Linked DNA regions of Homo sapiens. The protein of the gene in region 1 interacts with the protein of each later gene in a pairwise test. Each region holds a gene or a part of one and is shown in the gene's direction. Other genes may lie near its edges.

The links.
Region 2: the proteins of DLGAP1 (region 1) and SHANK2 interact in a two-hybrid assay, tested with the Homo sapiens proteins (one study listed by BioGRID).

The regions. Positions count from the first base shown.
Region 1 is NC_000018.10:3,495,461-3,500,376, reverse strand, and holds the end of DLGAP1 (disks large-associated protein 1), read left to right. Parts: intron 1-982; coding exon 983-1,192; 3' UTR 1,193-4,345; downstream 4,346-4,916. UniProt on the Homo sapiens protein: Part of the postsynaptic scaffold in neuronal cells.
Region 2 is NC_000011.10:71,249,573-71,257,402, reverse strand, and holds the start of SHANK2 (SH3 and multiple ankyrin repeat domains protein 2), read left to right. Parts: upstream 1-4,825; 5' UTR 4,826-4,978; exon of another isoform or gene 4,979-5,102; intron 5,103-5,530; exon of another isoform or gene 5,531-5,989; intron 5,990-7,830. UniProt on the Homo sapiens protein: Seems to be an adapter protein in the postsynaptic density (PSD) of excitatory synapses that interconnects receptors of the postsynaptic membrane including NMDA-type and metabotropic glutamate receptors, and the actin-based cytoskeleton.

The DNA.
Region 1 (4,916 bases):
AAAACATCAGTTTTATGTGCACCCTTTCACAGTCTACAACTTCAACCTTCTTTGCCTAAAAATCCTTTGTGGTCTAGACGCCATTCTTTCCTGCTGCATTTTTTTTAATGCCAAAGAGATGACTGTCTTTTGTTTTTGCAGTGGCATTGAAAATATCCGCCCATTTCATAGTTTGCTGCTGATAAGAGGAATGACCTCTTTCATCCTGTGTCAACTTTTCATGGCACAGTTTCTGCCCCTGTGATTGGAATTGCTTCCTGGGCCACCACAGTTATCCCGAGGCCCCTAGTCAGAGTCACCTTGGAACTGACTTAATTAACTCTCGAGTGTAGGAAATATCAATGGCCTCCCTCTCCCGTGACCCTGTATATTGTATATTGCTTGTGTGTTCGTGTGTGGTGTGCAAAAGGGTCTAACCTGGTGTAGCACCAACAAAGCTAAAGAACACAATCTGATATCTCTTCTTCCTCCTCTGTTTATTTAGGTTTGGTGGGAAGGGGACGGTGGGCGGGCCGGGGACAGAGCGGAGATGTTTTTAAGCTCTGAACCAAGCTTGCACCCGGTGACTTGCATCCTTAGAGGGGATGCAGGGGTTCTAAGATGCTGCTGCAGCCGCTGCTTCCTGGCCCATCTCTGGCACCAGGAGGAGTCTGGAGTCTCCAGAGAGAACCGCACTCAATGTGCTGGGAGCCGCAGGCTTTCCGCAGGGGGCCTTTAAAATACCCACTTCCTTCCCTTGGAGAGACCTAGTTCTGCAACCCAGCCTTACCCTGGGCCTTAAGCTTACCGGGATTTTTTTTTTTCTGCATCTTTTGAATGCCCAAGCCAGAATAATGAAGAAAAAAGTAGATATGCAGTGTGCAGATCAGAACTAACCACCCCTAGGTAAAAAACTGTGTGTTCTAACTACTGACCTATCCCAGTTTTTCCCAAGCTTGTCCTGAGAAGCTGTGTAATGTCCTGAACCTTCTGCTTTGATCAGGAGAGAAGGGCCCCTCCTCCAGTGCCAAAGAAGCCGGCGAAGGGCCCCGCGCCGCTGATCCGGGAGCGCTCGCTGGAGAGCTCGCAGCGCCAGGAGGCCCGCAAGCGCCTGATGGCCGCCAAGCGCGCCGCGTCCGTCCGCCAGAACTCGGCCACCGAGAGCGCCGAGAGCATCGAGATCTACATCCCCGAGGCGCAGACCCGGCTCTGAGCGCCCCGCAGCCCGGCCGCCGCCGCCAAGCATCTGTCCCCTCCTCCCCCGGCCGCTCCTCTGCCGGCTGCCTCTCCCCCTCCGAGCCCGTCCGCTCCCGAGCTCGGTGACTTCCACTGTCGCGGTGTAGTTGTCCACCTCGCAGGAGCCGCCCCCCGGGCCCCCCTCAGCCCCCCACTTCCCGTACCCGTTTGCCCATCTCCTTCTTCACCGAGCTTCGCCCCCTGTCCTGATGCCGTCGCCCTGCCTCATACTGAGATCCAACCCTTTATTTTCTGGGCAAAGCCAAACCCACCTGTGTAGAAGTGATGCCTTTAGGTCACCCGCCGTCCTCAGTTCTCTCGAGCTAGTCTGTTCAGCAATATAAAACCATAGGGTATTTCAGAAATCCAGTATCACAGGGTGATCCTTTGGGACTTACCGTCTTCCACGTGAAAGAAACTAGGCCTCCGATTCCCTTTATTTCCCCTAAATGGTTATTCTTTTAAAAAAGCAGATGGAGCACTTTATTCCCAACCTCAGAAATCACACCATCTCACTGGAATCCATGAGGGACACAGAGAGAGGGGACCAAGCCTGGCCTGGGGGTGGGGGACCTGGATGTGTAGCAAGGATGGGAGAAGCGAAATCTGCAGGTGCTGGGGGCACCTGCACACTCACAGCTGCACAAACTGCCTCACTGTTACTTCATCAATCACAGCTTCAAATGTCTCAATCAGCAGAAGATTGTAAATTCGATCTTTCAGGGAAATTAATCTATTCTGAAAGGCAATAACATGAAGCAAGGCAAAGGAGGCACTGATGGTTTAGTATACTACATAAGGGATTTTTTTGTTCTATTATTAAGAAAATCTAGACCTGAAATGTTTTCTCAACTCTTATTGTACTGTGTATATTTATATTGTTGTCGTGGCGGCTGTTTTTAAAGGGAAAGTGTTGGTTCTATTAATTTGTTAAGTGTCCATCCAGGTGGGCCTACCTGATTCCACATATATAAGTACATATCTGCTTATAAAGCGCTGTAAATGGCAGCAAGGCTGTTTTTGGAGAAGAGTTTGGGTTTTCCTACCATCCCTTTGAATGCTACACATCCGTCTATTTTAACCCAAGTAGTTCGTATTTCAGATATATTTTCTCCTTTCATCTCCTCTCACTACTGCAGAGTCCAGTAATACCTAGCATAGGATTCTGTCCTGTGTCAAATGGCTAAAATAAATTTTTGCCCCAATAGACATGCTGCCTCATTCAAAAGAGCTGCCGCTGTCATCTTGAGGTTCCAGGTAGTGAGAGAAGAAACTCGACCTGCCAGGGTCAACAGCCATGAAGAGGTGGGGGGAGTCATGATTCATAAACACTGAAAGAAGTCAAGGCTTTTGGCAGAGAGTGTTGATTTAGATTTTTAGTCTTGATTGATGGGCAGTATGCATCGGTGTCTAGCTGAAGTTGTCTTTAAATGCCCTTACTCGTCACAGTTTAAACACTTAGGATGTGGCAATCTTAAGTATCAATGGCATTTTATGTCCAGCTAACATCCTAAAGCATTAGAAATTAAAAACGAAAGACTTTTAAAAACATACATCAAACATGCTTGCACCAGAGAAGCTTTTTAAAATAATACACTCTCATAGCCAGGTGCTAATTTAATTTTACTTATGAAATTAAGAGAGGTGATGGGTTCTAGCAACAGATATTTTCACGGACATATTCTAAAACCACTAGAGAATTCGCTACCTCTCAGAGCCATCGATGCTTTGAGCTACCTTTATAAACAGGGCACAAATGTTTACTGCTGTGGTTTACAAGAAAAGGGCTACTCACTTATTTTGAAACCAACGAACCAACTTTTAACTAGGGTGAACAAAGCACTCAAAGTGCTTTGTGAAATTGGAGCATACAGAGATTTTGAGCTTCAAGTATTTGCTAGTTTTAAAAAGAATACACCTTTTCTTTACCTTGTAGCAGCAATTAAAAGTCACACAAAGCTTGCATCGAGTAGGGCCAACTGCCACTTGGGTAGCCTATGGTCACATTCAATACTGAGAATGACTTGGAACTCACAGATTAATATGAAAGAAGCAGCGTTCATCCCAAGACCCATGCTCACAATTACAGCTCCGTGCCCTGAGGTAGAGTTGAGATTTGGATTAAGAAATAGATTTCTAATACGACTCAAGATCATCCTACAATATTTTCTTTGGAAACTAATTTAGCCCATGATATTTTAAAGAGAGACAAGAGAAGGCCTATTTATCTTGTCTAAGTGAACGGCATTTGTATATTCATAAGCTATTTTTGGTAAGAATTTTAAATCTTTTAGCTCAAGGCCTACAGGGCATCATGATCTTTGCCTTCCTTGAAAATACAATTTAAATTGTACAAACACTTTATAAAAAGCTAATTATTGGTGTTAGAACATGACCCCACACAATGCTGCTTGACCCCTGAAACTGACATTCATGAGCATAACCTTTGTTACATTGTTCTTTTTGATGTAATTTGTAGAAATGTTTTTTAGTTCGTAATGGAAAATGTATGTACCCTGAAAAATTACTTATTTTGTTTAACTTTGGTATAAAGGTGTTGGGCATTTTCTTGGGGAGGGGGGGATTACAAAAGAAGTTTGTCTCCCACATCAAAAAACGTTCAAAGAAATTAAGTATTTATTATATTTTTTGCAGATGTTTCCATACAATTCACATAACCTTTTTGTAAAGAGAGATGAAGAAATGGATTAAAGATTTTTAATATTTGAAATGGTAAATAGAACTAATTTATTGTAATATATTTCTGTTATTTATAGATGTTTCCTTAATGTTTTACTGTGCATTACCACTTTCATTTAAGCCTTATCCTTGTGAATTTACCATTTCTTTTTTAAAACATGTCTAGATGCATATTTTAAATAACTGGAATGTAAATCACTAGCATATCTGAATTCCCAAATGTAATTTTTAAAAATTATTTTGGTTTGGAAAAAAAAGATTCATTTGAAAGCCTTCAGATGGAGGGGTGGGAACATTTTTATGGCTTTATGAATTGGAATTTCATAGGCTTATTTACCTAGATTGTGTGTGAACAAAAAAATATTGTAAATAGATGAATGTTTCCCATAATGTAAAAAGAAGAAATTAATAAAATAATTAATGCACTGCTTTCAGGTCTGTGTGTTTTTACTAGAGTCCCACTTCTTCCAAAATATGCTTTATTGTCTTTTGACGGGAATACTTCTGCAATTAAGAAGCGTATCATTCTAACTTTCACTGTACAGCACGTGTGCTATTCGTTGTTGATGACGTAGGGAGAACTTACATCCTGTTTAAAGGGGTTTCAATACCGAAGAACTAAAAAGTCCTTTTACTCTGATAATCCCACTCGTGAAGTTTCAGTTCAGAAGCTGAGAATAACTGTCTATCTTATGAAGGAGTGATGAGCCTTTCAAATGTGCAAATTCATGTCAGTTTTACCTACTTTGATTTCTTTGCATACATTTCATCCACTTTGTTTCCTACACAACTCTCAAGTGTAGGGAAAATCAGAAAAATGCTTTGTGGCTTCCATTCCATCCTTGCAATAATGAAAAACTGTGCCTCACTGAGGTTTAGTGACTTGCCCAATGTGCCACAATGATTAAAAGACAGATCTGAGTCCAGAACCCAAGGCTTTATTGAGCTCCTTTAGTGCCGTCTCTGTCATTCTTGCCACATTTAAAATTGGTAATTATTTG
Region 2 (7,830 bases), on another chromosome or scaffold:
CCTGGGCAATATGTTTCATTTCCCAATAATAGCATCAAGTTGCTGATATTGATTTGGATGAGCTGAACCCTCTCCCGCCTTGAGGTTCCTTCACAGGAGCCTCAACTCACATGGTCTGCTGGTGACTTCAGGCGTCCTGACCCATGACACAAGACAGGTTTTTTTCCTGTTTGTTTTGTTTTGTTTTGTTTTGTTTATCTGTTTGTTTTGAGACAGAGTCTTCCTGTGTCACTCAGGCTGGAGTGCAGTGACGCGATCTCAGCTCACTGCAACCTCTGCCCCCCAGGTTCAAGGGATTCTCGTGCCTCAGCCTCCAGAGTAGCTGGGATTACAGGCACCCGCCACCATGCCTGGCTAATTTTTTGTATTTTTAGTAGAGATGGGGTTTTGCCATGTTGGCCAGGCTGGTCTCAAACTCCTGACCACAGGTGATCCGCTCGCCTCGGCCTCCCAAAGTGCTAGGATTATAGGCATGAGCCACCGTGCCTGGCCCACAAGACAGTTTTTAATATAGTAGTGCCCCCTATCCATAGTTTTACTCTCTGTGGTCTCAGTTACCCCAGGTCAACCAAGGCATGGAAATATTAAATGGAAAATCTCATCAATAAACAATTAATAAGTTTTAAGCTGTGTGCTGTTCTGAGCAGTGTGATGAAATCTCAGGGCATCCGGCCCCATCCCTCCCTGGATGTGAACCATCCCTTTGTCCAGTGTCTCCATGCAGCCTACACTACCTGCCCGGCCGGATCGTGAGATAGAAAAATAGTAATATACCGGGGTCAGTACTATCTGCAGTTTCGGGCATCCACTGGGGGGTCTTCGAAGTATCCCCTGTAATAAGGGTTGGGGGGGCACTGTATTATTTTGGGTTTCCCCTCAATGCTTTCCCTGAAACAAGGACTTGGATGCAGGCTCCTCCATTTGAGAGTTGACTCCAGGGAGCAGGAGTGAGGGAGCAGCGGAAGGGAGATGCAGAAGGAGGCCATCTCCAAATAAAGGTATTTTGTCCCGGACCCTGCTGTAAGCAACGGAGGCTCCAAAGGCCCTTCCTAGAAGCCAGAGAATGTGCCCCAGCAGGACTGTTCACCTGCTGGAGGGAGGCAGAGCAGCAACCTCTCCCAGCCTCCCAGCTCTGCTTCCACAAGGACTGGAAGTGGCCCCTCGGGGAATGAACTCCTCCATCCTACAGGATGCCCTGCACCCCCAAGGGAGGCCTGGGAGAAGGTGGATGACACCCTTGTTCCGGACGTGGGCCTCAAGGGAAGAGCTCATGGCCTGGCTGGGAAGCCTGGCAGACCCTGTCCCGCAGCTTTCCCTCCTGCCTGCTGCTCCCCACATCCTCCCGCTCCAGTGCAGCAGGAAAAGCTTCAGACCATCCCCTCTCATCAGCTCAGATTCCAGGAGAAACAAACTCTCCCTCCAATCTCCCAGGTGGCAGCCAAGATGCTTACGTTCAAAGTCCCAGGAGGCTTTTCTCAGCAAATCCATCCACATAAGCTCATGGAAAATTAATGGAGAGGAATAAAAATCCACAGTAAGCTAGAGGCGAGACGTGAGAGGCACTTCTGCACAGGAGTGAGAGGACATGTAAAATCTGGGAATCCTTACAGCATCAGGTTTATGTGATTGAATTAGAAGTTGTCACAAAATTGTGGAGAAATGAGTGAATTTTCCAGTATTTGACATGGGCGGGAACAGGACGGAAGTGGACCTCTTGCTGTAGTGGAAAACAAGTAGGAAAAAAATGGCAAAAGCACGGGAGAATCTGGCAGGGATGAGGGGATGTGGCAGACTTGCTGGCCAGAGCACCTACCTTTACTTGGGCATACCTGCCTTTAACTGGCTTCACCTGTGTGTGCTTGCCTTTACCTGGCTTCACCTGTGCACACCTGCCTGTGTGGTTCTGACCTCACGCCCTTGAGTGAGTCTCCTCCCCTCCTTGGACCTCAGCTTCCCACCTGTTAAATAACAGGGTTGCCTTGGGTTAGGCCACTCCCACTCGGGCTGTCTAAGAATCATTCTCTGAAGATGTGCTGGCCTCCAACTATTAATACATTAAGCCCCAAACCCAGGAGCTTCTCTGGGAGAAAGGGACTGCTGCTGAAGGCAGTGAGCATCTGGGTTAATCTAAGCCACAAAATATTTATAATGTTTTCCCCAGGACCAAAAAGGTGGCTATATCTCACATCCCTGATGGTATGGTGTCCCAGTTTCCAGTTCTCTATAAAACAGTTACTCTTCCCAGAAAGTCCTAGCGTGCTCAGGACCACACAGCGTGTACTCCACAGATGTGGCTGATGGTTTCATGGTTCAGGTTGGACAAGAAAAAAAGACAAGATGACCAGATGGAAAAGCTTACTCCTTTCTGCAAAACCTGGTGAATCCTGGAAGGCAGCTTCCAGAAACAAAACCGGAGGGTTCTGAAACCAGGAAGCCAGGAGGGTCATGTCTTCTTTTCCTAAACTGAACCTAAAACAAGGCACTTGGTGGTGTGTGTGGCTATGGGCCCCCCAGAAATTAGAATGCCAAAAGAGGTCCTACTTCAAATGAGCGGCGGGGGGTAGGTGTTCCCCTCAACCTGAGATGCCCGCTCAGAGCGTTAAGATGTGAATAAAGGCACTGTGGCAGCATTATCTGACCCTGAACCTTTTCATAAGAGCCTTTTTTTTTGGCTGTCAATACTTTTAGTTGACACATAATTGTACGTATTTATGGGTCCAGTGTGAGATGTTGATACACGTATGCAATGTGTAATGATCAAATTAGGGAAATTAGTGTATCCATCACCTGTAACCTTGATTTTCTTTGTTTTGGGATCATAAGAGATTTTTACAGACTTGAAGGATGTTGCTTCATCGGAGCACAAGGCTGAACTGGATATCTCTAAACAGACACAAAGAAACTGGGGCGTAAGCAGGATGCTGTCCTTAAAATGCCGAATGTCGGGGCTCTCACACAGCGCTCTTGTTGGCTAACAGATCAGAAAGACTGGAGGGGGATGGCCCAAGGGGTGTCCACTTGGGTGGAAGGCTGGCAGAGGCCTGCGTCCCTAGGGAAGTATTTCTTGGAGATAGCATAATGGCATCGGTCTTAAACCTTGCATGGAGATAGCCGAAAAATGTTCACAATTGAACTGTGACCAGCTGCCTGGTCTATCTGCAGCAGTGGTTCTAGAAACCTAGGAAGGGGTGTTCCAGGGGTGGGAATCTGGTGAGAGGAGGGAAATATCCTGAGGATAGGTCTTTGAGCTGGGTTTGCAGGGTAAATACACCACTTTATTCAGATGACTTGCCTTCTTTGGTGGGGAGGGTACTGATGGACTGTTATGGAAAGGTAGAGCCCCCACCCCCACTCCCTGCAACCCAGGTCTTGCATCTGCCACCGGCCAACCCAAAGAACATCCGATTGTCCTGCTCACACCTCTCCCAGGCACCCCAGCTTCCATGCCAAACAAAGGATGCCTGCAGGATCCTGTCAGGGCGTCCTTCTTCCTGTTTTGGGGATTATTATTTTTTGATTGATTGACTCCTTTATTCATTCAACAAATATTTTATCAAGTGTATGCTTAAGGAAGCAGCGACGAGAAAGACATTTACATAAGGCAGCTGCCCTCAAGGAGTTACAATATTTATTCCATGTGTGTCCTGAAATATTCAGGCCCCAAACACAACTTTTTTTTTTTTAACCTAAGTGCTTTTAAAGACTTCTTTGAAATGTGGGACAATTATGCAAGCTGAAAAAAAAAAGTATCTAGAGCAAATATTTAACTTTGCCTTTGGTATGTTGAAGTCACCAGCCCATGCAAACCTCTCAGGCATGTCCTGTAAGATAGACTGACTTACACACACACACACACACACACTCACTCTATGTAGGGGGCACAGTTAGGGGTTTGCATAATGCCGGGCTCCAGGGTTCTGGAGACAGTTCTACTCCACAGCTTGGACTCTGATCCCCACCCACACCTTCCAGAATACTGGAAAACTCAGAACACAGAGACCTCAAGAGCTTACTCAGAAACACGCAGCTCGTACTGGGGGAGACTCCCAGTGAATGATTAAGGCCTTGAGAAAATCTATCAGCCGATGGCTCACACGGCGGCCACAGCTCCAAGCTCAGGACCCGCCCCTTTGGGCTTCCGCAAACCTAGCAATCCGGAGTCCTGGATAATAACAGGATTCCTGGAGTCTCCGGAGGGTGCCTTTGGCCTCTGGGATTCACCCGAGCCGTTGGCTTTTGCTCCCCCCACCCCACCCCCTGGCTTTTCTTGGCTTGGAGGGCAGCTGGCGGAGATACCGTTGTGCACCCCTGGGCGGAAGGCGCCCCAGAACTGGTGGCCTGGGCAGCAGACGCCGGCGTATCACCCGGGTACAAAGTTTTCGTTTGCTCTGCAAACGTTTTGATGTGCAGGCAGCCTCTATTTCCAAATCCTATTATTATAAATACTCTGTGGCGGGAGCCAGCTGCGTTCGGGATAACCGTGCAGACCGAACCGGACTTTACAAAAATCAGGGACTTTCTCGTCCGCCGGCTTTGGCCAGGGAGGGGGAGGTCCGTGAGCCACGCAGCCCGGGGCGGGGCAGAGGCGGCCAGGGCGCCCCGCGGTCTCCCGGGGTTGCCACAACAGACCCCACGCGCACGCCCGAGCCGCAGCCGCGGGCGGGAGCGGGGTCGGGGCGGGGGACTGAGGTCCGCGGCGTGGGCGGGGGTGGGGGTCCAGGTCGGGTCGCCCGCGGGTCCTGGGCCGCACGCGTCCTTTCGGCGGCGAGAGGGCCCCTCCCCCACCCTCGCCGGAGCCAGCTCCCGCGCCGGGCGGGGCCGGGTCCTTCCCCACCCCCTGCACCTGAGCCGCGGCGGCGGCTCCTGAGCTCCGGCGGGGCTGGGCGCGGCGCCGCTCGGGTTCCCGCGGCCGATCCAGGTGTGCGCGGACGCTGGCGCTCCCGGGGGGCTCGGACCCGCCCCCGACTCGCCGAGCCAGGTGAGGCGGCGGCCGGGGACGCAGGGCGCGGGCCGGGGAGGACGGGAGGTGGCCCTTGGGCACCCGATCCTGCTCACTGACGGCATTTTGGGGGCATCTCGATTCCGGGAGCACCAACTACCGGGTAAGCGCAGTCCTGGACCCAGAGAGGCTGGAGAGGTGGGCGCTGGGGGGAGTGAGCCGCGTGTCCAGGTGGGGGTCGATTTTCCGTAGAGAGCCCTTCCCCCTGCATGCCTTTCTTCCCGGGCAGGGGCCGGTGTCGAAAGCTTTGGAAGCGGCGTGGGGGCAGAGCGCAGGAAGGAGCCCCCGCTTTATCTCCTGCGCGCATGGACCACGTAGTCTCTGGCGCGTCCTGCCCCTTCCTCTGGAACAGCGCGTGTGGCGCGACCTCCCCCGCTCTCCCGGGGTCTCCTTGCCCCGGGTCACCGCCCGCCAGCCCTAGGACCCGGGCCAGCGAGCCCAGCGGAGGAGCCGGCGCGGGGCCGCCAGGTGGCGCGCGGGGGCGGAGACCCGAACCGTGGCCGCCAGGTCCCCCGAGACCCCGCTGCGGTCACCCTGGCCCTGCACGCAGAGCTCCCATCCAGGCGCGCGCGGCGGCAGCAGCAGCTGTCGCGGAGAGGCCGGGGCCGGCGCGCCTGGTGCGGGCCCGGGGGTGGCGGGTCGGGCGCCCAGGTCCCGGGGGTCGCGCTGAGCCACAGCCGGGTGCCCGACCCCGGCCCGCCGTGCTCACCAGCTGGGATAGGGAGACCCGGCGGGCGCAGCCCGGCCGCCACCGTCCGTGAATTATGCAGGAAGCTGGCACCGGCGCGCTCGAGTTGATCAAGTTTCCCTGGCAACTTTCGCCCGGGCATCCCTCCTCCCCGGCGGCCGGGCAGCTCCGCCCGCCCAGCCCGCGGCCCAGGCGCCTCCACCGGGTGGCCCCGGCCCCGGGCGCCAGGCGCGGGGACCGCTCCCAGAGACGCCGACAGCGCACTCGTCACTTGGGCTGGAGCCGCCGGACTGAGCCAGCAGGTGCGACCACCGCAGCGGGCCTCGCCGCCCGGGTTCGGGGGGATGCGGGGGCTGGGGTGGACCTCGCCGCCAGGGTTCTGGGGCTTGGCGTGGGGGTGCAGCGCGGCGCCCTCCAGGCGGGTCTGCGTGCGGACACCCTGCTCGAGGTGGGTGGGCGCGTGGGCGAGGCTTGCCTTTCCGTGGGGCTGGAGCACCCAGAGGGAGAAAGGGTGGTGCAGGTGACCGTGGGTTTTCGCAGCCGATCTTTTAAAGGGGCTCGGGGCGCCTGGAACTGAGAAGGCGCTCGAGCCAGGCAGGTGAGGGGTGGGTGGTGGGGGGGTCAGGCGAAAGTACGTAAGGCTCTCGGGGGCTGGCAGCTGCTGGCAGGGGCCTGGGCGTCCTCAGAGGCCATCCGAAAATAAAGTGGTTTTCGGGTGGAAATTCGAGGTTGTAAATTGGATAGTTGAGTGACCTCTTTTTCGTTTGAAACTCAAGTTCGAACGTTAATGAGGCCAATCAGCTAATTAAGCTTCCAGATCCAGAGAGGTAATTTCGGAAGTCCCCCGGTGGGGGAGGGCGATTTGATCTCTATCTGGGATGTGGGCCTCGGTTTTGCCGACCCAGCCACAAGGGAAGTTCTGCGCCCCTGGAAAAGGACCTGGCAGATTCAGCCTTAACCCCGGTGCCCTGCGGTCCGCATCACATAGTTAGTGACGCCCTTCTGTGCACTAGGAACCGAGCCTGGTGCCCCAGAGGGTTCAGCAGGTCCAGAACAGCCCCGGGCCGATTGCTTTTGGAGTTTTCCAACTACTTGTGGGTTGGAAACAAGGTTGAGGGTCCTAATAGGGTTGAGCCTGTGGGGGTGGAGTGAGGAGAGCGAGCTCGGCCCCCATCTGGGTTCAGTGTTAATTCTGAGGGAAAGCCGTCGTGTCTGCTCTAAGAGGGGGATTGGTAGGTGGGAGCTGTGGGTTTCTATGCCGGATGTCACTGTCCTCTGAGGGGGCTTGAGGGAGACTCTTGTCCTGATAGGAATCTGGGTGTCCCAGTAGTGCCTGAATGATTCAGCTCCTGGGAAGCACTGTCTATATAAGGCCTCTGATTCCATTATTACACCCAGGAATTCCTTGTTTTCCTGGAAGGAAGAATTGGGTGGAAAGCTTGGTGCTTCTTTGGGTCCCTTTGGAAGGAGGTTGGAATTCAAGTATCAAAGGTAACTCTTTACAAGTAGGTGATTTCACCTATAAAGATGATCCCAGAGGGCTCGGTTGACAGCACTTGGCTGCTTTTAACAAATTAGATTCCCCCCCACCCCCGGGGAGGGGGGCGGTCTGTTGGGGGGATCTTTCTGTGTACTGTCTCCAAGTACAGTCTGCTATAGAAAACCGTATTCCTATTTGGGTGAGTTTCAAGATTTTCATTCATTCATTTCTTCATTCAGGTGCTTAGGGTTGTATGCAGGGCCATGCTGGCTTCTAGGGGTCTTGGTCTAGGCCTGGGCTTGGGGAGCCAGGTGATATCAGATGTGAGTGCTGCCCAGAGGAAGGTAAAGGGATTCTGAGACCGCATTGCATTTTATATTTCATTAGTGACGAGGAAAAGGATGGGAGAGAAAAACGGGCCGGGAATTAACCAGTATACAGAAACACACTCCTAAAAATGGCTCTTTATAGGAAGGCAGTGCTTTAGCATACTTGCCTTACTTCCAAATACGTAACAGAGTTGCAGACGAGAGAGTTCTGGGATCCCCGTCAGTCCCGATGAGGACTTTTCTAAAGTGGGGCTCAGCTTGGGAGTTGCTGCAGGGCCTGAGGTTGTGCCTCCTACTCTGAAAGAGTTCTGGGCCTGGACACCTGAGGTCTTAC